Linked DNA regions of Homo sapiens. The protein of the gene in region 1 purifies or fractionates together with the protein of each later gene. This does not show direct contact. Each region holds a gene or a part of one and is shown in the gene's direction. Other genes may lie near its edges.

Region 1 (8,376 bases):
TTTCATTGTGACTCCATGATGTTCCTGTATGACATACTCCCGTGGTCCTACCAAGACTTTTACAAAATCAAACAATTTTTCATGATAAAATTTCAGTGTCACGAAGTACGAATATCCACATAGTCATTTGTAGTCAGTTATTGGTAGATACTAGCTAGATTCAGATGTGATTGCATTCTGTATTTATTTTCTTCACTAATAATCAATGGACTTTGTTAAAAGTTAATAAACTTCATGATAGAAAGTCAGTTTCTCAATTAGGTTTATCTAAGTATAGCAGATTTTTAGCTGCACGTGAAGCAGATCAAAGTAACTGAATACTCAGAATCTAGCAATAAGGAGCCATATCACTTTGTATTGACAAGTTAAAGCAGTTTTTTTTTTTTTTTGAGACAGAGTCTCGCTCCGTTGCCCAGGCTAGAGTGCAGTGGCACGATCTTGGCTCACTGCAAGCTCTGCCTCCCGGGTTCACGCCATTCTCCTGCCTCAGCCTCCTGAGTAGCTGGGACTACAGGCACCCACCACCACGCCCAGCTAATTTGTTTTGTATTTTTAGTAGAGACAGGGTTTCACTGTGTTAGCCAGGATGGTCTCGATCTCCTGACCTTGTGATCCGCCTGCCTTGGCCTCCGAAAGTGCTGGGATTACAAGCGTGAGCCACCGCGCCCGGCTGAAGCAGTTTTTAAAAAAATTGCTTCATCTCCTCCATCCAGTGAATTGATATTTTCCCTAAGCATACCTGTTATGAAATTTATGTTAGTACCTTTAGAATTATATTTCTGTTTCCTAGTATATACTTTATATGTGGATTAGGTATAACTCTGAGAGAATATCTTTCTTAGGTCTGTTACGATTGATGTCAAATTTGAAATCTGCGGATAATATGCCTTTGTTTTTTTTCTAACAAGGTCATGATGTACTATCCCTTTTTTTTTTCTTTTCTTTTGAGATGGAGTAGTCCCAGCTACTCAGGAGGCTAGAGTGCAGTGTCATAATTTCAGCTCACTGCAATCTCTGCCTCCTGGGTTCAAGCAATTTTCCTGTCTCAGCCTCCCAAGTATTTGGGATTACAGGTGCCCGCCACCACGCCTGGCTAATTTTTGTATTTTTAGTAGAGACGGGGTTTCACCATATTGGTCAGGCTGGTCTCGAACTCCTGACCTCAGGTAATCCGCCCTCCTCTGCCTCCCAAAGTGCTGGGATTACAGGCATGAACCACGGCGCCTGGTCTACCCTCTCGTAATCTTTTTTTTTTTTTTTTTGAGATGGAGTCTTGCCCTGTCACCCAGGCTGGAGTGCAGTGGTGCGATCTCGGCTCACTGGCACCTCCACTCCTGGTTCAAACTATTCTCTTGCCTCAGCCTCCCGAGTAGTTGGGATTATAGGTGCCCACCACCATGCCCAGCTAATTTTTGTATTTTTAGTAGAGACGGGGTTTCACCATCTTGGTCAGGCTGGTCTCGAACTCATGACCTCATGATCCACCCGCCTCAGCGTCCCAAAGTGCTGGGAATACAGGCAGGAGCCACCGCGCCTGGCCCCCTTTCTTAATCTTTTAGGGAGATTCTGGTTTTCCTTCCAGGAAATACTCATTTGCCAATGAGTTTGTGTTGCTGCAAAGTTTTCTGCTAAAATTCAAGACAATGTTTATCAACTCAATAAGCACAAATGTGTTACCAAAGAAATAGGACTTCACTGTTAAATGATTTAGTACATATTATTTCACTTCAAAAAAGCCCCAATATATCTGTTTTCCACATAGGTAAATTATGGCAGAGATGATATTAATGAAGAGAGGAACTCTATTAATTACCTATTTCTATGTCAAAGCCAGCCCCAAACTTACTGGCTTAAAAAAGACAAAACAACCAAATTTATTTTTTTCTTATAGCTCTGTGGGTTGGCTGGGCAGTTTGATAGGTCTCTCTGGGACTCAGGCTTACTAATGCGTTGAATTCAGATGACGGCTGGATGTCCGGAATGGCCCAGCTCACATATCAGACTGCTTATGCTGGCTGTTGGCTGCAATTCCTTGGTTCTTTTCCATGTGGGCTTTCATCCTCTATGAGGCTAGAGTTATGGCATGGCAATCTCAGGGCAGGACTCTGGGATAACCAAGTCTGCTGCAAAGGCACTCGTTAAACCTCTGCTTGCTTCACTTTTGTCAATGTGATGTTGGCCCAAAACAAGTCATATGGCCAAGCTGAGAGTCAGTACGAGAGTGAGTTTAGGTGCCATCTCTTGATGGGAAAAATGGCAAGGGGTTTGTGGCTGATTTGGCTGTTTTTAATCTAGAGTGAAAGTTTTCCCACTCTTCTAAAAACCTATTCTTTTTCTTTTGTAAATGAATTATAATCCCAAATTGGAAAATTATTGCCTGGCCCCCTTACTCTGGCGTGGTTGACATGGAAGTATTATATAGAAAGAAAAATCATCCATTACTACAGACATCCAAAACTAGCCCAACTAAAAGTTGTGTTGAGAGAGAAGAGGAGACATGGACAGAAACAGAGGAAAAGGGAACTAAGAGCTGTACATTGGTATCTAGAAATGAATTCTACACTGAGAAATAATAGCACAAGAATGGGTGGACAAGGTCATAGCACGTGATACAATAAAATGGTTATAGTAAAAACCACAGTGATACAAAAAGCACATATATTTACATGAGGCTTTGTAATTTAGAGATTGCTTATGTCTTACCACATTTATCTTCAAGCTAAGTATATAAAGTACTCAAGATGATATTGATTCCCATTTTTCAGTTGATTAAACTAAGATTCAGGGCGCTTCATTAACCTGTCCAAGGTCATAATACCATTAGATGAAGAACCAGGATCTAAGAATTTCTGATAACCAGCCTTGCTCTCATTCTGTGGTAAAACTTCATGCAAAGAATAAACAAGAAAATAAGTGTCAGGAAGTGAGTTTTGAAACTTTATCAAACAAAATATATTCTAAACAAAGAAATTAATGGCCTTTTTGTTTGTTGTTTGTTTTAGTAGTAATTGATAGAAATATTACGTGGGATAGGATTTATTCTCTCCACACTTCTGAACCAATGAATAGAAAATGGGAAGCAAAACTGAAGCAAATTGAAGAACGAGCATCTCATTATGAGAGGAAACCGTTGTCCTCAGTGTATAGACCAAGATTGTCCAAGCCAGAAGAACCACCCTCCATCTGGAGACTATTTCATCGACAAGCTCAAGCTTTTAATTTTGTTAAAAGCTGTAAAGAAGTAATTTCCTCCTCCTCCTCTTCTTCTTCCTCCTCTTCCACTTCCTCTTCTTTCTTCTTCTTCTTCATTATAATTTCAGTTCTTTAAAAAAAAAAGTCTATTATTTGTCTTCATTTCAGGCCATGTATTCTACCAAGAAAATTTAATGGCAATCTTAATGGCATGTGATTTAGGAAAAATATTCCTGTGAATCATTAACCATTTAATTTATATTAGTAATGAAAAAGAATGACACATCTAGTACCAATTAGTTTTTAAAAATTGTGATGATATTTAAATGAAGCTTTATGCTTAGAGGGAGGGGAACCATATTTATTTCAACACAGTAAGCAAGTAGGAGAAAGAAGTGTCAGCCTTTCAAAGAACATGGTGCTGAAAAATAAAAATCACTGGCCGGGCGAGGTGGCTCATGCCTGTAATCCCAGCACTTTGGGAGGCCGAGACGGGTGGATCACCTGAGGTCCGGAGTTTGAGACCAGCCTCACCAACATGGAGAAACCCTGTCTCTACTATAAATACAAAATTAGCCGGGTGTGGTGGCGTATGCCTGTAATCCCAGCTACTCCCAAGGCTGAGGCAGGAGAATGGCTTGAACCCGGAAGGCGGAGTTTGCTGTGAGCCGAGATCGCGCCATTGCACTCCAGCCTGGGCAACAAGAGCGAAACTCCATCTCAAAAATAAATAAATAAATAAATAAATAAATAAATAAATAAATATCACTAAATCAAGCAACAGATGTGTATTGCACATTCTTTTTTTTTTTTGGGGCACTGTGGGGAATGTAAAGAAATATGAAAGAAACGATAAGATGCTTATATGATAGCATAAGTGTGCTGTGAGTCTGATCACTGTTGCTGTATAAAATCTCCAAGTGCTGGAAGTTTTAGAAGGACCTCTCTTTCTCTAGTAAGGGTAGGCTTACTCAAATCTCATGAGAATGGTTTAAGAAATACCTTTCTTAGGCATTTTGGGTAAACCTAATTCAAGCAGCAGAAATTAAAATACTGACAGATTCATTTGAACTTGAATTTTAAAAAGATATAGATAGGGGTATGCTTGTTGGACTTGCTAATCACCAGTCTATAAAATTTATTTCAAAAAGGTTTTTGTTAGGGTTAAGCAACTGAGTCCTGTGATTTTTCACTCATGAAAAGAAAAATATGCTCACCAGCTACCTTTAGCTAAGAGGAAACAAAAGAACTTGTGGATGTATTCCTCTATTAGAAGAACCCTTATGGCAGGAGGCATGAGCAGTTATATTTAAACAACTACCGCAGTAATTAACCTTTAAAAAAATGGTTCCGGCTGGGTGCGGTGGCTCATGCCTGTAATCCCAGCACTTTAGGAGGCTGAGGCAGGCAGATCACTTTGAGGTCAGGAGTTCGAGACCAGCCTGCCCAGCATGGTGAAACCTCGTCTCTACTAAAAATACAAAAAATTAATCGGGCGTGGTGGTGGGCACCTGTAATCCCAGCTACTTGGGAGGCTGAGGCAGGAGAATCGCTTAAACCTGGGAGACAGAGGTTGCAGTGAGTCGAGATCACGCCACTGCACTCCGGCCTGGGCAACAGAGCAAGACTCTGTTTCAAAAAAAAAAAAAAAAGGCTCCTACATACATTTTTTTATGTACTGGGGAATTTACTAATCAATTTTAGCCCAAATCATTTATAATAATAAGTAGTTTTGAAAAATAAGTTTAATTTCATAAACTAAGAAATAAAACTATCATAGGAAGTCATACAAGTAATATTTTTAAGAGTGGTTTCTCTCCTTTTTTCTCTTTGGTCTGCATATTCTAATTGTTTTCACCTTTTGTATGAATGATTAAAAAATAGGTATAATTAGATTTTGAATGGCATAAACCTAGTGACTATTTGTCTTGTTTTTAATAATACAAATGTTCAAATTACAGTTTCTGAAAACTTGAATGAAAAATTCTTTATGAACATTCAGTAGCTACAGTTGAGTTTAGGTTTGCATTTTGTGAATTTTTCTGAATTCTTTTTTGATTTTATGCAGGACGTTCATGTATTTGCTTTGGAATGCAAAGTAGGAGATGGACAACGTATTTACCTTGTGACAACCTATGCTGAATTTTGGTTTTACTATAAATCCAGGTAGGTAGCATGCAGCAGAACCACACATTAAGCTAGAGTTCCATTTCCTTTGCCTAGGAATTTTGGTGAAATTAGTTCAGGCTGAATTGGCTTCCACAGTTCGTGACCACACTATTAGTTGCTCTTAGAATTGAATTCTGGAGTTTTCTTGTCATAGCAATGCTTGAGTATCTCACCAGGTGCTGGGAGAAAATAATCATGCACATACACGAATATATGCGTGTACTCAAAGGGAGTTTTGAAATTTCTCTTTTGCAAACAGGTATTAAATTATACTATTAATCACAAAGGAATATTTATGTTACTTACCTAGTAATGAAATATCTGCTTTATCTTGACTTTATTATTACTATTTTAAATTATTTGTTATTAGCTTTAGTTTTAATTTTTTAATTTTTTTGAGATGGAGTTTTACTCTTGTTGCCCAGACTGGTCTGCAGTGCCATGGTCTCGGCTCACTGCAGCCTCTGCCTCCCGAGTGCAAGTCGTTGTTCTGCCTCAGGCTCCCGAGTTGCTGGGATTACAGGTGCCCACCACCATGCCTGGCTCATTTTTATGTTTTTAGTAGAGACGGGGTTTCACCATGTTGACCAGGCTGATCTTGAACTCCTGACCTCAGGTAATCCACCCACCTCGGCCTCCCAAAGTGTTGGGATTACAGGTGTGAGCCACTGTACCTGGCTTATTAGCTTTATTTTGACTGAGTGATCTATTCAAGTATTTCTTTTTTTTTTTCTTTCTTTTTTTTAATTTAAAAAATTTTTTTTGAGACAGTTTCACTCTTGTTGCCCAGGCTGGAGTACAGTGGCACAATCTCAGCTCACTGCAACCTCCCTGAGTTCAAGCAATTCTCCTGTCTCAGTCTCCCAAGTAGCTGGGATTACAGGTGCCTGCCACCACGCCTGGCTAATTTTTGTATTTTTAGTAGAGACGGGATTTCATTATATTGGTCAGGCTGCTCTCGAGCTCCTGACCTCAGATGATCTGCCTGCCTCGGCCTCCCAAAGTGCTGGGATTACCAGCATGAGCCACCGCACCCAGCCGTATTCAAGTATTTCTCAGACTTGAGTAATGTGTGGAAAAGGAGAGTAAATTGTTAGCATGCCCTATATTGATTTAGAATACTTTTATTCAAATGTTGCTAAGTAGCTTCAAATATGAAACTGGATTTATTTATGTTGATATACATGCAACACCAGTTAGAGTTGAATGAAAATCATTAAGACAATGTGACAGATGTTTTGCTGAAACTCAGTCTCATCTTCCCATGTAAATATGGAACTGACTGCTACAGGGTGTGTATGTATGTATGTGTATGTGTGTGTTGAGTTCCTCCACTACCTGTACCACCTGATGATACAATTTTCACATAACTTTTCCCTCTTCAAATTACTAGAAGTCCTTAATTTGTATAGGATGCCATCTGAATATCACTTAGCCCAAATTATCATTTGCAAATTAAGTCAGCATCTCTCCCTATTTAACCCATGTCAAAGTCATTCCTCTTAATGCCAGAAAGAATGTAACTGCAAACATGAGCGTTGGGAGCTTATCAAAGTCAGGTGATTCAGAATTTTTTAAGCAATTTTTAAAATATTATCTTCCAATGAAAATACAGAATTTAAAAATTCTCATGGAAAATTCATGGAATCCCAAGAATATGGAATCCTGAAAAGAACATTTTTTTTCAAAGAAAATTTGTTTCATGGTGACACTAAAAACAAATATAGAGGTATTACACAATATCAAACTCATCTGTGAATAAATAACACTGTAAGATTGACTGTATTTTCTAGTTAAATAATGTTACAGGATATAATTGTTGCATTTTGCTTGATGGAAACCCTTGATAAGATGAGCCATAAACCTATGGTGAACAGTTCATTTTATCATGTTCTTATTTCATACTTGTATGTAGTGAAAGCACAGTTAACACAGTACTTGCAATGTAAGATAGACTGCCATGATTTAAAAGGTATAAGATAGAGGCTGGGCGTGGTGGCTCATGTCTGTAATCCCAGCACTTTGGGAGGCTGAGGCAGGTGGATCACTTGAAGCCAGGAGTTCAAGATCAGCCTGGCCAACATGGCGTAAACCCTGTCTACTAAAAATGCAAAAATTAACCAGGCGTGGTGGCGTGTGCCTGTAGTCCCAGCTACTCGGGAGGCTGAGGCAGGAGAATCGCTTGAACCCAGGAGGAGGAGGTTGCAGTGAACCGAGATCACACCACTGCAGTCCAGCCTGGGCAACAGAGCTGACTCAGTCTCAGTCAGTCAATCAATCAATCAATAAAGGTATAATATATCAATTTAACAATCTTGAATTATTCAATTTAGAAAAAATCTCTTACACTGCTATGAAGTTATTCCTGAAAATGCTGTGTGCAAGCTTTATTTTGATTTGGAATTTAACAAACCTGCCAACCCAGGAGCTGATGGGAAAAAGATGGTTGCATTACTCATTGAGGTAAATGGCCAACTCAAGTTTTTCTTATTTCTATCCATCTCTTCATTGGCTTATTCATTCAGTGAATTCAGCCTACATAATAGTAGGTTCTGTATCTCTTCTTTTTCTTGCTACTCTTCCTTTTGACTTTAGGATTTTTTAATATTACTTGTATGAGTAAACTGTGAAAAGGAAGGAAAGTTCAATTTGTGTTCATATAGTTTGCAATTTTGCTGTCTGGTAAAAAAAATGCTTTGAAAAAGATGTCAGTTTGAAAATTTTCTATATTTTAAAATTATATATTAATTCTCTGACTTCCATTACGAATAGCTGACTTTGGTAAAACCAGGCAAAATAATTTTTACTGTAAAAATTGGGTACTGAGATGAACCTCAAGAACACTGACTACAAATAGTATTAGAATTTTCAAGCTTGCAGGAATTTTGGAAATCATCTTATCTTGTCCCTTTCAAAATGAGGAAATTAAGGCCCAGACGAAACTAATTCCTATTCAAGGTCCTACAGCTAGTAATGGTAAAATCTTGTCTAAAAATATAGTTACTATTTTTAACT
Region 2 (6,248 bases), on another chromosome or scaffold:
AGGACCTGCCCCTCTATTTCATGACTTTCCATGGACAGCAAAGCATCAGGTGAGACTCCCAGATTCCAGCCACCTTGCTTTCCCAGACATATCCCAGCACTCAGGAACCTTTGGTTCCTTTTCCAGCTCCAGTAGGAACTCCCCCATCTCCTTAGGTTTGGAGTTTTTCAAAGAATGAGAGGGCAGGGCTGGACACACTGGCTCACGCCTGTAATCCCAGCACTTTGGGAGGCTGAGGTGGGAGGATCACTTGAGCCCAGGGATTTGAGACCAACCTGGGCAATATAGGGAGACCACCCCTCTCTATAAAAAAATTTTTAAAAATTAGGCTGGGCATGGTGATGGCATATGCCTGTGGTCCCAGCTACTCAAGAAGCTAAAGTAAGAGGATCGCTTGAGCCTAGTAGGTTGGGGCTGCAGTGAGCTGTGATCACACCACTGCACTCCAGCCTGGGCTACAGAGCAAGACCTTGTCTCAAATAATAGTAATAATAATAGAAGGGCAGAGGAGGCAGCCAAGAGAGTTTTCAGGATGCTAGTTCTTCTGCCTGGGGTGGTCTAGAGACAACTTGTCAAATTCCTTGCCTTTCCTCTTCCCAGGACTGTAATAGATACAATGCAACATGCAGTCTACGTCTATGACATTTGTCATGTGATCATCGACAACCTGCAGTTCATGATGGGTCACGAGCAGCTGTCCACAGACAGGTGACGGTGACATCCTCTCTTGTCTAGCTTGAGCCCGCTTGGACATACAACACACACTTCTCAGGCAGCTGGCCTCTAGGCACACATGCTGTGCTCTCCTATTTTCTGAGATGTGTGCAGGCACGTACCACCCCCATGTGTATCATATGGAGGTGTGGGGTATGGCAGCAGGATGTATGGACAGGGATCTGAGTGTGAGTCCTTGGGTAGAGGGAGGTAGAGTGGGTTGTGGTAGTTTGTGGGGAGATGTGAATGGATCAAGAGTATGTGTATGTTCTTGTCCTTCTGTGTCTGATAAGCTCTTTGTGTTGTTGGGATGGCGTAGGATCGCAGCTCAAGACTACATCATCGGGGTCTTTCGGAAGTTTGCAACAGACAATAACTGCCATGTGACACTGGTCATTCACCCCCGGAAAGAGGATGATGACAAGGAACTGCAGACAGCGTCCATTTTTGGCTCAGCCAAAGTGAGTGGCCTTTAGCGGAGCTCAAGCTTTGGAAAATAGAGTGGGTAGGTGTGACCAGGGACAGCCCTCATTCAGCCTTAATCGTCTTGACTGTCCATCCGAACAGGCAGGAGGCAATGCCTCTGGGGCCATGACATGAGGAATATATGTGCTGGAAATACAAAGGCTGATAGTTGGTTCTTATGCTCTTCTTGTCCCCCAGGAGCTCACATCCTCTCCTGGGGAAACAGTAAGACAGTGATTGCAATTCAGTATGATAAGAGTATGATAGGCAGCACAAGTATTTGGAGAGCAAAGAGAAAAGATGTCTGAGTCAGCCCGGGACATCTGGGAGACTTCCAGAGGAGGTGACAACAAAGGTTGGGTTGAGGTTTGGTAGACAATGGGTATTAGACAATCAGATAAATGTGAGGGCCTTCTGGGCATCAGGACCAGCCCAATCCTGGAGCTTCTAGTGTTACACTGAATGCCTATTACATACGAGGCCTGGGCTGGGCCTAGGGAATTCAGAGCAAGGAGCACAAATCATGTGCCATGATGGAACAAACATGGAGCTGGGAAAGAGAGTAATGCAGAAGTGGAAAAATGGCAGGGTACAGTGGATCACACCTGTAATCTCAACACTTTGGGAGGCTGAGGCAGGAGGATTGCTGGGGCCCAGGAGTTTGGCAATCTGAGCAATGTAGTGAGACCCTGTCTCTACAAAAATATTTGAAAATTGGCCAGGCGTGGTGGCTCACGCTTATAATCCCAGCACTTTGGGAGGCCAAGGCGGGTGGATCACGAGGTCAGGAGATCGAGACTATCTTGCTAACATGGTGAAACCCTGTCTCTACTAAAAATACAAAAAAAAAAAAAAATTAGCCGGGCGTGGTGGCAGGCACCTGTAGTCCCAGCTACTTGGGAGGCTGAGGCAGAATGGCGTGAACCCGGGAGGCGGAGCTTGCAGTGAGCGGAGATCGCGCCACTGCACTCCATCCTGGGTGACAGAGTGAGACTCCGTCTCAAAAAATATATATATATAATATATATATATTTAAAAATTAGCTGGGCATGGTAGCATGCACCTTTGGTCCCAGCTACTCAGGAGGCTGAGGTGGGAGGATTGCTTGAGCCTGGGAGGTTGAGACTGCAGTGAGCCGTGCTCACACCACTGCACTCCACTCCAACCTGGGCAGCAGAGTGAGACCCTATCTTTTTTTTTTTTTTTTTTTTTTTTTTGAGACGGAGTCTCGCTTTGTCACCCAGGCTGGAGTGCAGTGGCGCGATCTCGGCTCACTGCAAGCTCCACCTCCCAGGTTCAAGTGATTCTCCTGCCTCAGCCTCCCAAGTAGCTGGGACTACAGGCATGTGCCACCACACCCGCCTAATTTTTTGTATTTTTTTAGTAGATACGGAGTTTCACCGTGTTAGCCAGGATGGTCTCAATCTCCTGACCTCATGATCCGTCCGCCTCGGCCTCCCAAAGTGCTGGGATTACAGGCGTGAGCCACCGTGCCCAGCTGAGACCCTGTCTTTAAAAAAAAAAAAAAAAAAAAAAAAAGAATGGTCTCCTTCATGAGATGTGACATTTAGACTGAGACCTAAAAGAGAAGAAGCTGAGGTTGAGTGGGGTGGCCCGCTGTGGAGAAGGAGAGGGAACAGCACAGGCAGCGTCTGAAACAGTAGCAAGCTTGTCAGGGAACTGAAAGATTTGAGTGGCCCCAGCATCGTGGTCAGTAGTTCAAAGAGCTTTGGTCATGGGGGGAAGTACTTTTCCCTCTCCCATTCTTTCTCTTTTTTTTTTTCTTTTTTGAGACGGAGTCTCGCTCTGTTGCCCAGGCTGGAGTGCAGTGGCACAATCTTGGCTCACTGCAACCTCCGCCTCCCGGATTCAAGCGATTCTCCTGCCTCAGCCTCCCAAGAAGCTGGGACTATAGGTGCATGCCACCATGCCCAGCTAATTTTTTGTATTTTTAGTAGAGATGGGGTTTCACCGTGTTAGCCAGGATGGTCTTGATTTCCTGACATCGTGATCCACTCGACTCGGCCTCCCAAAGTTCTGGGATTACAGGCGTGAGCCATTGTACCCAGCCCCTCTCCCCATTCTTATCACTCCTCCCTGCCCTGTCAGCCCCCCTTTCTGCTTTGCTCATGTCCTCTTACTCCTGCTTTCCTCCTTCTGCCCCCTGTTCCCCAGGCAAGCCAGGAAGCAGACAATGTTCTGATCCTGCAGGACAGGAAGCTGGTAACCGGGCCAGGGAAACGGTATCTGCAGGTGTCCAAGAACCGCTTTGATGGAGATGTAGGTGTCTTCCCGCTTGAGTTCAACAAGAACTCCCTCACCTTCTCCATTCCACCAAAGAACAAGGCCCGGCTCAAGAAGATCAAGGATGACACTGGACCAGTGGCCAAAAAGCCCTCTTCTGGCAAAAAGGGGGCTACGACACAGAACTCTGAGATTTGCTCAGGCCAGGCCCCCACTCCCGACCAGCCAGACACCTCCAAGCGTTCAAAGTGAAGGCCGTGCAGAGCTGGTCACTGAAATGAGCCTGATAGGATAGGCTGGAGCATAAAACTCTGCAAGGGCTCCTCTATCCTGTGGTCCTGAGCTGTGTGCCCTTCTCAGTCTGAGGGGCCTAACCTAGAGCAGGTTTCCATAGTGAGAAAATTCAATGTAGCAGACTACTGAGAAACTACTGTGTTGCTCAGGCTTTGTTTGAGGTCCTGTATATACAGCACTGAAAAGAGAGATAAAGTCCCTGCCTGCATGCATTCTGGCGGAAGAGACAAGCAAGCAATGAACAAATTAGCAGAAAACCTAGTTTTAGTGAAAAATGCTGTAAAGAAAATAGAAATGCGATAGAGTGCTGGCAGGCTAGTGTAGATAAGTGGTCTGAAAAGGTGTCTCTGAGCCGAGGGCATGTGAGCTGGGGCCTAAACAACTAGAAGGAGAGAGCCACGTGAACATCCGGCGAAGGGGACCCAGGCAGAGAGAAAAGGAAATCCAAGCCCTGAGGTAGGAATGAGCAGGTCAGATTCAAGGCAGTGAGGTCAGGCCGCATGAACCTGGAGGGGAATCGGGGACTTCATGCGAAACTCCAGCCTAGGCTTTCAAAGTCAAAGGGTGATACAGTGGGTACCAAGCTCCTCTGCTCCCCACTTTGTAGAGCCTAGCATGAGGTGGCATGTACTAGAATTGGATCCTAGGTGCTTAGCCCTGCAATATCAGGGCCTCACTGGTGGGAGCTGCCTCGGGCTGGGTTGCTTGGTCATAGAGCCATAGAAGGAAGCTGTCAGCCCGGAGTGCCTGCCACCTAGACACTGATGCCATTGTGTGCTGCCTCAAGACTGCTGGAGTCAGGACATTTTATAGAGCCTTTTCCAGTTTTACTAAAAAATTTTTCCATTGCCTTTGTTTCTGTGCTTTTTCTTATTCATCCACCAGGTGTCTCCCCAGTCCGTAGCTGAATTTCCCTTTCGGGATTGGGAATGGACGGGTCCCCTCCCACTGCTTGCAGCCTTTGAGCGGTGGGCTTCCAAGGAAGCAGGGACATTAAAGGGCCTTCACACCCCACCTTCCATTTACATCTCTTCTTGGCCTAGGGAAGACAAGATGATCTGTCCTCATACCTAACTTCCCTGAGGATCTCGAGTGATTCCTGGCACAGGTACTCATCACTGGGCCACATGAGCCCAGTGCCCTGCCTGACTGGCCATTCCTCTGTGATGTGAGCCACTCACCTCTCAAGTGGACTTAGACTCAACATATTCTGTCCACCCCCATCCATCTCCCTCCTGTACCCTCTCCGTGTTTCTCATATGCTAATGCGTGCCAGAACTCCTGGGGACTTGTGAAAAATGCAGAAACTAGGCCCCATTCTCCCCCCATCCTCCACCACGTACATTTCTCATTCTGGATTTGAGGACGGGTACAGTAATCCTCATTTTTAACAAGCCGTGGAGGAGACTGTAAAATAGGTGACCCAGAGGGACTGTCAGAAGTATTCCTAAATGATGACACCTTCTCATCTCTCGTCCTCTGATATCCCAAAGTCCCAGTTTCCCTTTGGATTTGCCTGAAAGAGTCGTGAGAATGCAATATGTTCTGAGGGGGCTGGGGAGAATCCTTTTGTAAGGGTTGGGGGAAGGTTTCCTGCTCCGTTTGGAAGCAGGGCTGCCTTGTCAGGCTCTTCCTTTCAACCTATGAAGGGGCTTCTGGGGCCGATGGAGGGGTCTGTGGTCTCTGGAGTGTGAGAACTCTGGTCACAAATGTCTCCTGAAACATCCGGAGCAAGGCTGCTGGAAAGCTGCTCTCTGTGAGGAAGAACCTGGGGGGGTGGGGAGAGCTCCTCCAGGGCCTCCCTTCTTGGGGGTCTCTCCCAGACTGGCTGGAGCCAGGCCTCCCTAATCCCGCAGTAATCATTCCCAGCCGTTGGCTGGTCTAGGCCTCATCCAGAGTCTGTAACGCTGAACGGCAGCCATGCCTTCCAGAGGCACAATACCATATCAGTCATACCTGTAAGGATGTGGGTTCCACATTCCTGTCTCCCTAGAATGCCTGGTGGGTTCTCAGGAGATCTTTTAGGGGTTTCCAGTAGGGGACCTTTGTGAGGTCTCTGTGAACTGGGGATAGAGGGATAGATACAGACTTGGCTGTTTGTCTTGCCCCACCCTTCTAGCAGACACCCCCACACAGCACAAACCAGAATGATGAGGGGGAGGGGAAGCTAATACTCCCCCCAGCCCTACCCGCTGCACAAACACGTTCTATTCCATACCTGCCTTAAATACCCCATATCATGATTCCACCCAGTCTGTTCAGATCCCTGGATTCTAGAAAGCAGTGGGGGGTCCCTAGGGCCTGTGCGGATTCCCTGGGATAGGACTGGTCTGTCTACACCCAACTGGATGTTAAGAATCTCCCTGACTCACAGGTTCGGTGGATTGGGAGGAAAAAAAAAAAATTTCCCTGAGATCTCAGGAAAGGCCTGGCTAAGCCAGGTCCAGTTGGATCTACAGCCTTGTCCTCTAATTGATAATGTATGTCACACTTGGCCATGAGGGGACAGCTTTGGTCCTCTGGCAGCTTCC
Region 3 (4,081 bases), on another chromosome or scaffold:
TTTTTTTTTTTGAGACAGAGTCTTGCTCCGTCGCCCAGGCCGGAGTGCAATGGCATGATCTCAGCTCACTGCAACCTCTGCCTCCCAGGTTCAAGTGATACTCCTGCCTCAGCCTCCTAAGTAGCTGGAATTACAGGTGCGCGCCACCACGCCCGGCTAATTTTTGTATTTTTAGTAGAGATGGGGTTTCACCACGTTGGCTAGGCTGGTCTCGAATTCCTGACCTCGTGATCTGCCCGCCTCGGCCTCCCAAAGTGCTGGGATTACAGGCGTGAGCCACTGCACCCGGCCCCAAGTAACATATTTTTGACATTTTTTTTTGTTTACATTCACACTCTCTCGCTTTTTTTTTTTTTTTTTTTTTTTTTTTTGCGACAAGATCTCACTGTCACCCAGACTGGATCTCCAGCTGGATCGCCAGCAGTGCGATCCTAGTCACTGCCGCCTTCAACTTCTGGGCTCAAGCCATTCGCCTGCCTGGGCCTCCCAAAGTGCTGGGATTACAGGCGAGCCACACCGCACCTGGCCAGTGTCTATGTTCAGCCCTATTTTTCCTCTCTTTACCACCTCTTTTCTCAGCTTATTATTCAATAAACAATTCATAAAACTCTGAGTTCGAAGCATTCTGCTATGAACTCTGAAGAAGCGGTAATTTCTTATTCACTATTGCTTGCCTCTGTCCTTTTTCCTCCTCCCACAACTCAGTTTTCCAAAAACCGAGACCTATTTCCAAGGTTTAAAGTGCCGGGCACAGTGGCTCACGCCTGTAATCCCAGCACTTTGGGAAGCTGAGGTGGGAAGATCGCTTGAGCTAAGGAGTTCGACACCAGCCTGGGCAACTAATCCCCGTCTTTGCAAAACAAACAAACAAACAAACAAAAACCCATTAAAACAAAAATTCGGTGTGGTGGTGTTAGTCGGGGAAGGGAGGCTGAGGTGGGAGGATCGTTTCAGCCCGGGAGGTAGAGACTGTAGTCAGCCGAGATCGAATCACTGCTCTCCAGCCTGAGTGATAGAGCGAGACTTAGTCTCAAGAAAAAAAAAAAAGAAAAACCCCAGAATAACAAGTATTAACTTTATGCAAATAAGGAGGCTTAACTGAGTTCCTCTGAAGAATTCAGTAGGGCGGAAATTGTGGGACCGAAGGCGGGACCGGCGTGCTGGGCGGAACCTGAGAGGCGGGTTTTGCAGGCTCCGCCCAGCCCCCCGCACGGATTTGGCGCCAAACGCTGCGGGCCCTTCTCGCCCCAGGAGTTCCCGAGTATCGCGAGAAGCGCGCTTAGTCTGCACGCCGAGGTCCGCGCTGTGTCCCGTGTTTTCTGCGTGAGGTGAGAGCTGGCTGGCGGGCCAATGAAGTTCTTGCGGGGAGAGGGGAGTCGGACTAGCCAGGGAGCCAGATGGAAGAGCCAGGGAGCCAGACAGACTAGCGGGAAAGCCTAATTGTCGCAGGAAGGGGGTCAGGAGGTTGGGGGGTCGACCTGACCCGGCCTGGAGAGGCGGGGAGGTGGGCGCGTGTCCCGGTTGCTTAGGTTTTGGGATGCCTCTTACTCTGCCAAGCCGCTTAGCGGGAGGGAACGTGTTCCTGATCATCTTTACCCCAGGCTTCTGTCCGGGGCGTGTCAATGTAGAAATCCCCCAGCGAATGTTGGATGAATGAATGAAGTTGAAGAGAGGGTAGGCGGGGAACGAGGATGAGGGGGACGGCTGGAGAAGAGGTATGGGAGGTTCGATGTTTCAGGGATGGCACCCAAGGGGGACATCGAGGCAGCACGGTAGCACTTCCTTTGCGATGAGGGGCGTCTCTTTGGACTTCTTGGAAAAGAGGTGGGCATTGGAAACCAGGGTCTGGGAACAAACCGTGGTTTGGACATAACATTTGTTACCTTCACTCTTCTGGGAGTTGGAGAAGTAGAGGAGGAAGTTCAGACAATTTCATAAGTGTCTAAAAAGAGACAGTTATGCGACCATTGACGAGGAGTAAAAGTCGTCTATTGAGCATCTTATTCACTACAAATAGAAGAAAGAAATACCAGTTTCCTGACAAGCCCCACCCCATGCTTGGCCAGTTCCTGAGTACACTTAATATATTTTAGGTACTGTCATCAAACTCAAAGCTCGCTGTCAGCCTCAAAGGTCTGAACCCTAGTATAGATTCTTGTAGCTTGCTTGAAGTTACAGTGGGTCATGATCAGGAATTGATGCTTTGTTTTTGTTTTGAAACGGAGTCTCGCTCTTTCGCTCAGGCTGGAGTGCAGTGGCGCGGTCTCGGCTCACTGCAAGCTCCGCCTCCTGGGTTCAAATGATTCTCCTGCCTCAGCCTCCCGAGTAGCTGGGACTACAGGCGTGTGCCACCACGCCCCGCTAATTTTTTTTGTATTTTTAGTAGAGATGGGGTTTCACTGTGTTGGCCAGGCTGGTCTCGAACTCCTGACCTCATGATCCGTCCGCCTCTGCCTCCCATAGTGCTGGGATTACCGGCGTGAGCCACCGCGCCCAGCCGATGCTTTGCTTTTATATTTATGGTAACCGAAATTTAGAATTAGTGAGATTTTAAAGATCGTCTAACTCCAATTTGGGGAAACTGGAATTTTTTTTTGCATTCCATCATTCATCAAATATATATTGAGCACCTGGGGCCGGGCGCGATGGCTCACGCCTGTAATCCCAGCATTTTAGGAGGCCGAGGCGGGCGGATCACGAGGTCAGGAGATCGAGACCATCCTGGCTAACACGGTGAAACACCGTCTCTATGAAAAATACAAAAAATTAGCCGGGCGTGGTGGCAGGCGCCTGTAGTCCCAGCTATTCGGGAGGCTGAGGCAGGAGAATGGCGAGAACCCGGGAGGCGGAGCTTGCAGTGAGCAGAGATCGCGCCACTGCACTCCAGCCTGGGTGACAGAGCCCGAGACTCCTTCTCAAAAAAAAAAAAAAAAAAAAAAGATATATATTGAGCACTTGCTGTGTAACAGCATTGGGGTTCCAGCTGTGTAACACAGAGAGACTTAACCTCGTTGCCCTTTTTGAGCTACAGTCTAGTTTGGGAGACGAACAATAAATAACTGTATAAATAAAACCTGATATTGAAACTGGATAAGTGCCATGACACTTGTACTTGACACTATGAATGCTTACTAAAGAAGGATTTAGAGAAATTGAGGTAAACTTTTGAAAAGGTGATAGTTGAGATCTGGAAGATATTAGGAGTCAAGGAATAGCTTTTTCAAGACAGGAAATAGTATTTGTAAAGAGCCAGTGGCCTGAGGGATATAGCTCTTTCAAGGAAAGAAAAAGCATAGAGTAGTGTGAAGTGAGACTGGTGAGGTAGTAAGAGGCTGGATCACACAGGGCCTTGAAGTTTTGTCTTTATCTTAAGAGCAATCAGAAACCATTGAAATACTTAATCCAAGTGAGGTGATCAGCTTTATATTTTCAGATTCAGTCTAGATGTAATAGGGACAATTGAAGGAGACGAGTGGATGAGAGTAGTGGAGTAATGCAAGCAAGAAATGTTGGGAAGTGGTTATAGAGATAAGGAGAAATAGACAGATTCAAGGGATATTTAGGAAATAAGATGGGCAGGATCTGTGGGATAGGGGAAGGAATTGCTAAAGATGACTTGTAGGTTTCTGAATTGCATAGCTGGATAGATGTCATTTAATGAGTTAGGAAAATTTAGAAGTTTGGTTTTGTACCTGCTGAGTTACAGGTGCCTTTCAGGCGTTTAGGAAGTGTAAAATGGGAAGTAGTGATCTGGATCGCAGAGTCAAGGCCTAGGGTAGAGATAAAAATCAGGGAGTCATCTATAAATCAGTACTTATTAAAGCTCTGTGCATAAATGAATGAAGAAGCCCTAGGATGGAGTCTTGGATACTTAATGGCCGGGGTAGAAGATAAACCTGCAAAGAAAATCCAGGAGGAGTGCCCAGAAAGGGAGGAAAGCCTCAGCCTCCTGAGTAGCTGGGACTACAGGTGCGTGCCACAACACCTGGCTAAATTTTTTTTATATTTTTAGTAGAGACGGGGTTTCACTGTGTTGGCCAGGCTGGTCTCGAACTCCTGACCTCATGGTCCGTCTGCCTCT
Region 4 (5,028 bases), on another chromosome or scaffold:
GAGTAATATTTCTCTTCTAATTCCACTGAATTATAAATTTTGTTTATATTATTCCTGGTCAGTGCTCAAGGTATGAGGAATTAATTGTAACTAGCCAGATGTTGTGTAGAGACTACACACTAGCATAGTCTATTCCTTATGTGGCCTGTTCTCCAGCTGTCAGCCTGTTTTGTTTGTTTGTTTGTTTTTTTACTTTTTGCTACCAGCCCATGTAAGTCTCCTATTTCTAAATCTTTACTTCCTTCCAGAATCTAACCAGATTTTACCAGCTTCTTGAAGAGCTGGTTCTTTCATTAGGTTTTTAATGATAAACATACTTTGTGGGATGAGAATGGCCATCCATGAATTCCTGGAGGGCAGGAACTATTCCTTACTCATCTTTATTCTCCTAGTCCAGCGTGGTACCTGGCACAAGGTCCTTAGTCAGTATTTTCAGGCAAAGATAAATTGGTGCATCTTATTCTGAACTTTGTAATAGACATGTGCAACAAACTGATCATTGTGAAAATACAACTTTTGTGATATCAGTTTTCCTTTCCCAAAACAAAGCCTTGCTTACATAACAGAAACACTTTGCAACAACTTGTATGAATTCTGTCAGTTCTTGAGTGAGCTTCCAATGGGAAACTCTATCCTTTTATTCTCCTTGATATCAAATGGTGCTATCATATTTGTATCATAACTTTTTTTTAACAACAAACGTCTGTAATTATTTTATTTAAAACTTGTTAAATTATCCTATGGGTTTAAAGAAAGGAGTTAATTCATTTTTTTAAAGATTTTTCTCTTTTTAACACCTACCTCTTACACAGAAAGACAACTCTTTTTTTATGATAAAAGGAGCCCTTGAAAAAAAATGCACACATCCTTCTAATGTATTTCTATATAGACAGGAAAAACTATACATGTGGTTTTAAAAAAATCAATGATAACTCCTCTGGTCTATAAGAATATGGTTTGGCAATCAACTTTGTAACAGAATGATAAAAAGAAATTATTGATTGATTGCGAATTCTGTTATCCAAAGCTATCTCTTTGTATTGGAAACCTATAAAAATAACCAAAGATAATTCTTCATTAGAATCCTAATATCTATAAAATCAGACTAGGAAAATTTGAGTAATTAAGTGGTCAAGAATCTTTTATTCATTTTCCTTTTTCTCATTTTCTTTTAGAACTGCCATTGGATGTCCAGAATCCCCTGTAGTTGATAATGTTGGGAATAAGCTCTGCAACTTTCTTTGGCATTCAGTTGTTAAAAACAAATAGGATGCAAATTCCTCAACTCCAGGTTATGAAAACAGTACTTGGAAAACTGAAAACTACCTAAATGATCGTCTTTGGTTGGGCCGTGTTCTTAGCGAGCAGAAGCCTTGGCCAGGGTCTGTTGTTGACTCTCGAAGAGCACATAGCCCACTTCCTAGGGACTGGAGGTGCCGCTACTACCATGGGTAATTCCTGTATCTGCCGAGATGACAGTGGAACAGATGACAGTGTTGACACCCAACAGCAACAGGCCGAGAACAGTGCAGTACCCACTGCTGACACAAGGAGCCAACCACGGGACCCTGTTCGGCCACCAAGGAGGGGCCGAGGACCTCATGAGCCAAGGAGAAAGAAACAAAATGTGGATGGGCTAGTGTTGGACACACTGGCAGTAATACGGACTCTTGTAGATAAGTAAGTATCTGACTCACGGTCACCTCCAGTGGAATGAAAAGTGTTCTGCCCGGAACCATGACTTTAGGACTCCTTCAGTTCCTTTAGGACATACTCGCCAAGCCTTGTGCTCACAGGGCAAAGGAGAATATTTTAATGCTCCGCTGATGGCAGAGTAAATGATAAGATTTGATGTTTTTGCTTGCTGTCATCTACTTTGTCTGGAAATGTCTAAATGTTTCTGTAGCAGAAAACACGATAAAGCTATGATCTTTATTAGAGAATAGAGTAAATATGGAGTGAGTTTATGTTGCTAGCTACAATAGGAAATGGTTTCATGAAGGCTCACTGTTAATGGTACATGCCTGTCTATTCCACTGACCTCAGATTCAAGGTAAGTTGTTTTACCAAGAACATGGCTACAGGCAACTTCTCTTGGCAACATAAGGACTAAGGTCAAGGAGAGTTTTCATTATCCTTTATTTGATCCTTTATCCCTTATTTGACTATCTTTAATCCATTTAGGAAGCTTGTCAGTTGATACTGCAAGGCACACCTGTACCTGTTTTGTCTTTTCCTCTGCTTTGTCTACCTCTAAATACAAAATCATAGATTGAATAACAGTGAAATTAAAGGGCATCCAAGTAGAAAAAAACATTTAACTTAAGGTTGTATATTTCAGTAGTTAAGAGCACAAAGCTTAGAACCATGATGGGCCTAGCTCAAGTTCTGGCCCAGTGCCTTACTAACTGCATGACATTGGGTAAGTTACTTCTTGAAGCCTCAGATTCCTCATCTGTAAATGGGGGGATAATATTGTTCCCACAAGGATTATCATGAGATAATGTACATAAGGCATTCAGTGTGGAGCTTTGTACTTAACAGTTGCTCAGTAGATGGTAGTATTTTTTAAAAAGTTACTTATGTGTTCTTTTTGCTTCAGGCCCTGCTAGTAAATTTAAGTATATAAACATTTGATAATCGCATTTATAGAAACCCAGTTTCGTTTAGTTCCTCAAAAATTAAGCATAAAACAGAGTGTACCTGTGAATACAAACGAATTTTTAGAGCTGTATTAAACTTTTCCATAAAATACTGGAGCATTTGTTAGTCTTCGAGAAGAATAATTTTTTGGCCAGACACAATGGCTCATACCTGTAATTCCAACACTTTTGAGAGGCTGAGGTAGAAAGATAGCTGGAGGCCAGGAGTTCAAGACCAGCCTAGGCAACATAGGGAGATCCCATCTCTGCAAAAAAAATTTAAAAATTATCCAGGTACAGTGGCACTTGCCTGTGATCCCAGCTACTCAGGATTCTAAGACCGGAGTACTGCTAGAGTCCAGGAGTTTCCAGCTGCAGTGAGCTATGATCACACCACTGCACTCCAGCCTGGGCAATAGAGCAAGACCCTGTCTCAAAAATTAATTAATCAAAAAAAATTTTTTAAATCCCTTGTACCAAATTGTAATAAAAGTTATCCTTCCCAAATAAGGAAGTAAACCACAAACAATGTTAATTTAAGCTCATTGGAAAAATGGGTGCAGAATAGACTTTGAGAGAGAGAGTTTTTTTGTTTTGTTTTGTTTTTAAAGAGACAGGGTCTCACTTTGTCACCCAGGCTGGCGTACAGTGGCGTGATCATGACTCACTGCAGCCTCAGCCTCCTGGACTCAAACCATCCTCCCACCTCAGCCTCCTAAGTAGCTTGGACTACAGGCGTGTGCTACTGCACCTGGCTAATTTTTAAAAAAGTTTTTGTAGAGCCAGGTCTTGCCATGTTGCCCAGGCTGGTCTCAAATACCTGGACTCAAGCGATTGTCGAGCTTCAGCCTCCTTAAGTGCTGGGATTGCAGATGTGAGCCCCCACGCTTGGCCCCTTGCAATATTTTAAAAGAGAGTGACATAGTTATACAAACCTCTTTGTTTTTAACTTTTCTCAACATCGAAATCTGTGTTACTGTATATAAATCTACAACTGCTTCTGACTATTACAGAGTATTCCCTTGTATGCCTGAAAGTATTATATTTTGTTACATTTTCATCTGGTGATGGTCACTTAGGTTACTGCCAAATTTTTGTTCTTACAAACAGCACTGCAGTGAACAGCGCAAATATGCATTGATTTTTGGACCTGTGTAAAAATTTATCTACAACTGTTGGGTATATGCATACTTAATTTTATTATTGCCAGATCATTCTTCAGAAATACTTGCATCAGTCAATTATATTGTTTAAACAGGCAGCACCTAATGAGTACCTGAAATGACCATACTAATTCCCATATCACAAGGTTATTCTCTGGATTAAATGACTTAAGATGATAGTTTTTGGGGCTTTTTTTTTTTCCACACTAAAACAGAGACCCACAATATGTAAACAAATAAGTGGTGAGTTCTTAAGCAGTTAGAATTGTTTAATGGAAAACATCTCATTATTGAAGTTCCCCTGAAGGACTTTTTAAAGATTTCTGGGATCACACCACTGAATTAAGGTGTATAATGCCACTTTGGAGCAATGTCTAGAATGTTAAGTAGTTCCTTAAGTTTGGTTTTGTTTCTTGTAATACCATTTTATGAAGTCTAAGCATGTAGTGGTATTTCCAGAAGAAAACTTCAAAATGAAGATGCGTATATAGGCCCTTGCTTCCATAAGTCCTCAACCGGGATTGTCGTCTCTCTTCCTGGCATTTCTCTGAGGTAAGTATGAAGGTGATGTTGACCTTCCTGGCTTGTCTCAGTTGGCACTGGGCCTCTGAGTGTAAAGCTGAGAGTAGGCTGTGATCTCCAGTTTTACTCCTGTGCTTTTACCCCAGGACACATAGTAGTCTTTGTCTGTATCCACCTGCCCATTTTGTCTGTGGGTCATTGTGGACAGTGACTGGAAATGAGCACATATGGTATACATTCATCCTTACAGGTCATAGCTCAGGTTGTCTCTTCTATCTCTTTCCTTACATTTGTGTTCATTTCTTCTGTCCCTTTTTACCTCCACACCTCCAGTTTGAATTCTTATTTGGAATTGTCATTTATTATTTCCTCAGGTTTAATGCCTTGAATTTTTTTTTCCAGTGATCAGGAACCTCCCTATTCAATGATAACATTACACGAAATGGCAGAAACAGGTATTTTTAGTTTTGTTTTCATTACTTTATAATGAATATATAATAATGAAGAAAAGTAGCCACCTTTTGTTTTTTGTTTTGTTTTGTTTTGAGATAAAAGACTCCAAAAATACAGCATACATAACAATGAAAAAAGCCCTTACTGTATGGAAATTTCCCTGAATAGGTATAATAGGCAATGCATATTATACCTTTTTTTTTTTTTTTTTTTTTTTGGCATTGATGGATCTTTCACCATACTGTTCT

The links.
Region 2: the proteins of PRIMPOL (region 1) and TWNK purify together in Homo sapiens (affinity purification with mass spectrometry; 2 studies listed by BioGRID and IntAct, with this or other methods). This does not show direct contact.
Region 3: the proteins of PRIMPOL (region 1) and TIPIN purify together in Homo sapiens (affinity purification with mass spectrometry; one large-scale study listed by BioGRID and IntAct). This does not show direct contact.
Region 4: the proteins of PRIMPOL (region 1) and RSPRY1 purify together in Homo sapiens (affinity purification with mass spectrometry; one large-scale study listed by BioGRID and IntAct). This does not show direct contact.

The regions. Positions count from the first base shown.
Region 1 is NC_000004.12:184,654,080-184,662,455, forward strand, and holds part of PRIMPOL (DNA-directed primase/polymerase protein), read left to right. Parts: intron 1-3,002; 5' UTR 3,003-3,061; coding exon 3,062-3,241; intron 3,242-5,260; coding exon 5,261-5,358; intron 5,359-7,694; coding exon 7,695-7,824; intron 7,825-8,376. UniProt on the Homo sapiens protein: DNA primase and DNA polymerase required to tolerate replication-stalling lesions by bypassing them.
Region 2 is NC_000010.11:100,989,836-100,996,083, forward strand, and holds the end of TWNK (twinkle mtDNA helicase), read left to right. Parts: coding exon 1-49; intron 50-600; coding exon 601-708; exon of another isoform or gene 709-828; intron 829-1,033; coding exon 1,034-1,175; coding exon of another isoform or gene 1,176-1,190; exon of another isoform or gene 1,191-1,219; intron 1,220-3,354; coding exon 3,355-3,675; 3' UTR 3,676-4,568; downstream 4,569-6,248.
Region 3 is NC_000015.10:66,353,886-66,357,966, reverse strand, and holds the start of TIPIN (TIMELESS-interacting protein), read left to right. Parts: upstream 1-1,281; 5' UTR 1,282-1,328; exon of another isoform or gene 1,329-1,824; intron 1,825-3,845; exon of another isoform or gene 3,846-3,969; intron 3,970-4,081.
Region 4 is NC_000016.10:57,203,329-57,208,356, forward strand, and holds part of RSPRY1 (RING finger and SPRY domain-containing protein 1 isoform 1 precursor), read left to right. Parts: intron 1-1,175; 5' UTR 1,176-1,330; coding exon 1,331-1,680; coding exon of another isoform or gene 1,681-1,684; exon of another isoform or gene 1,685-2,053; intron 2,054-4,264; coding exon of another isoform or gene 4,265-4,357; intron 4,358-4,729; coding exon 4,730-4,782; intron 4,783-5,028.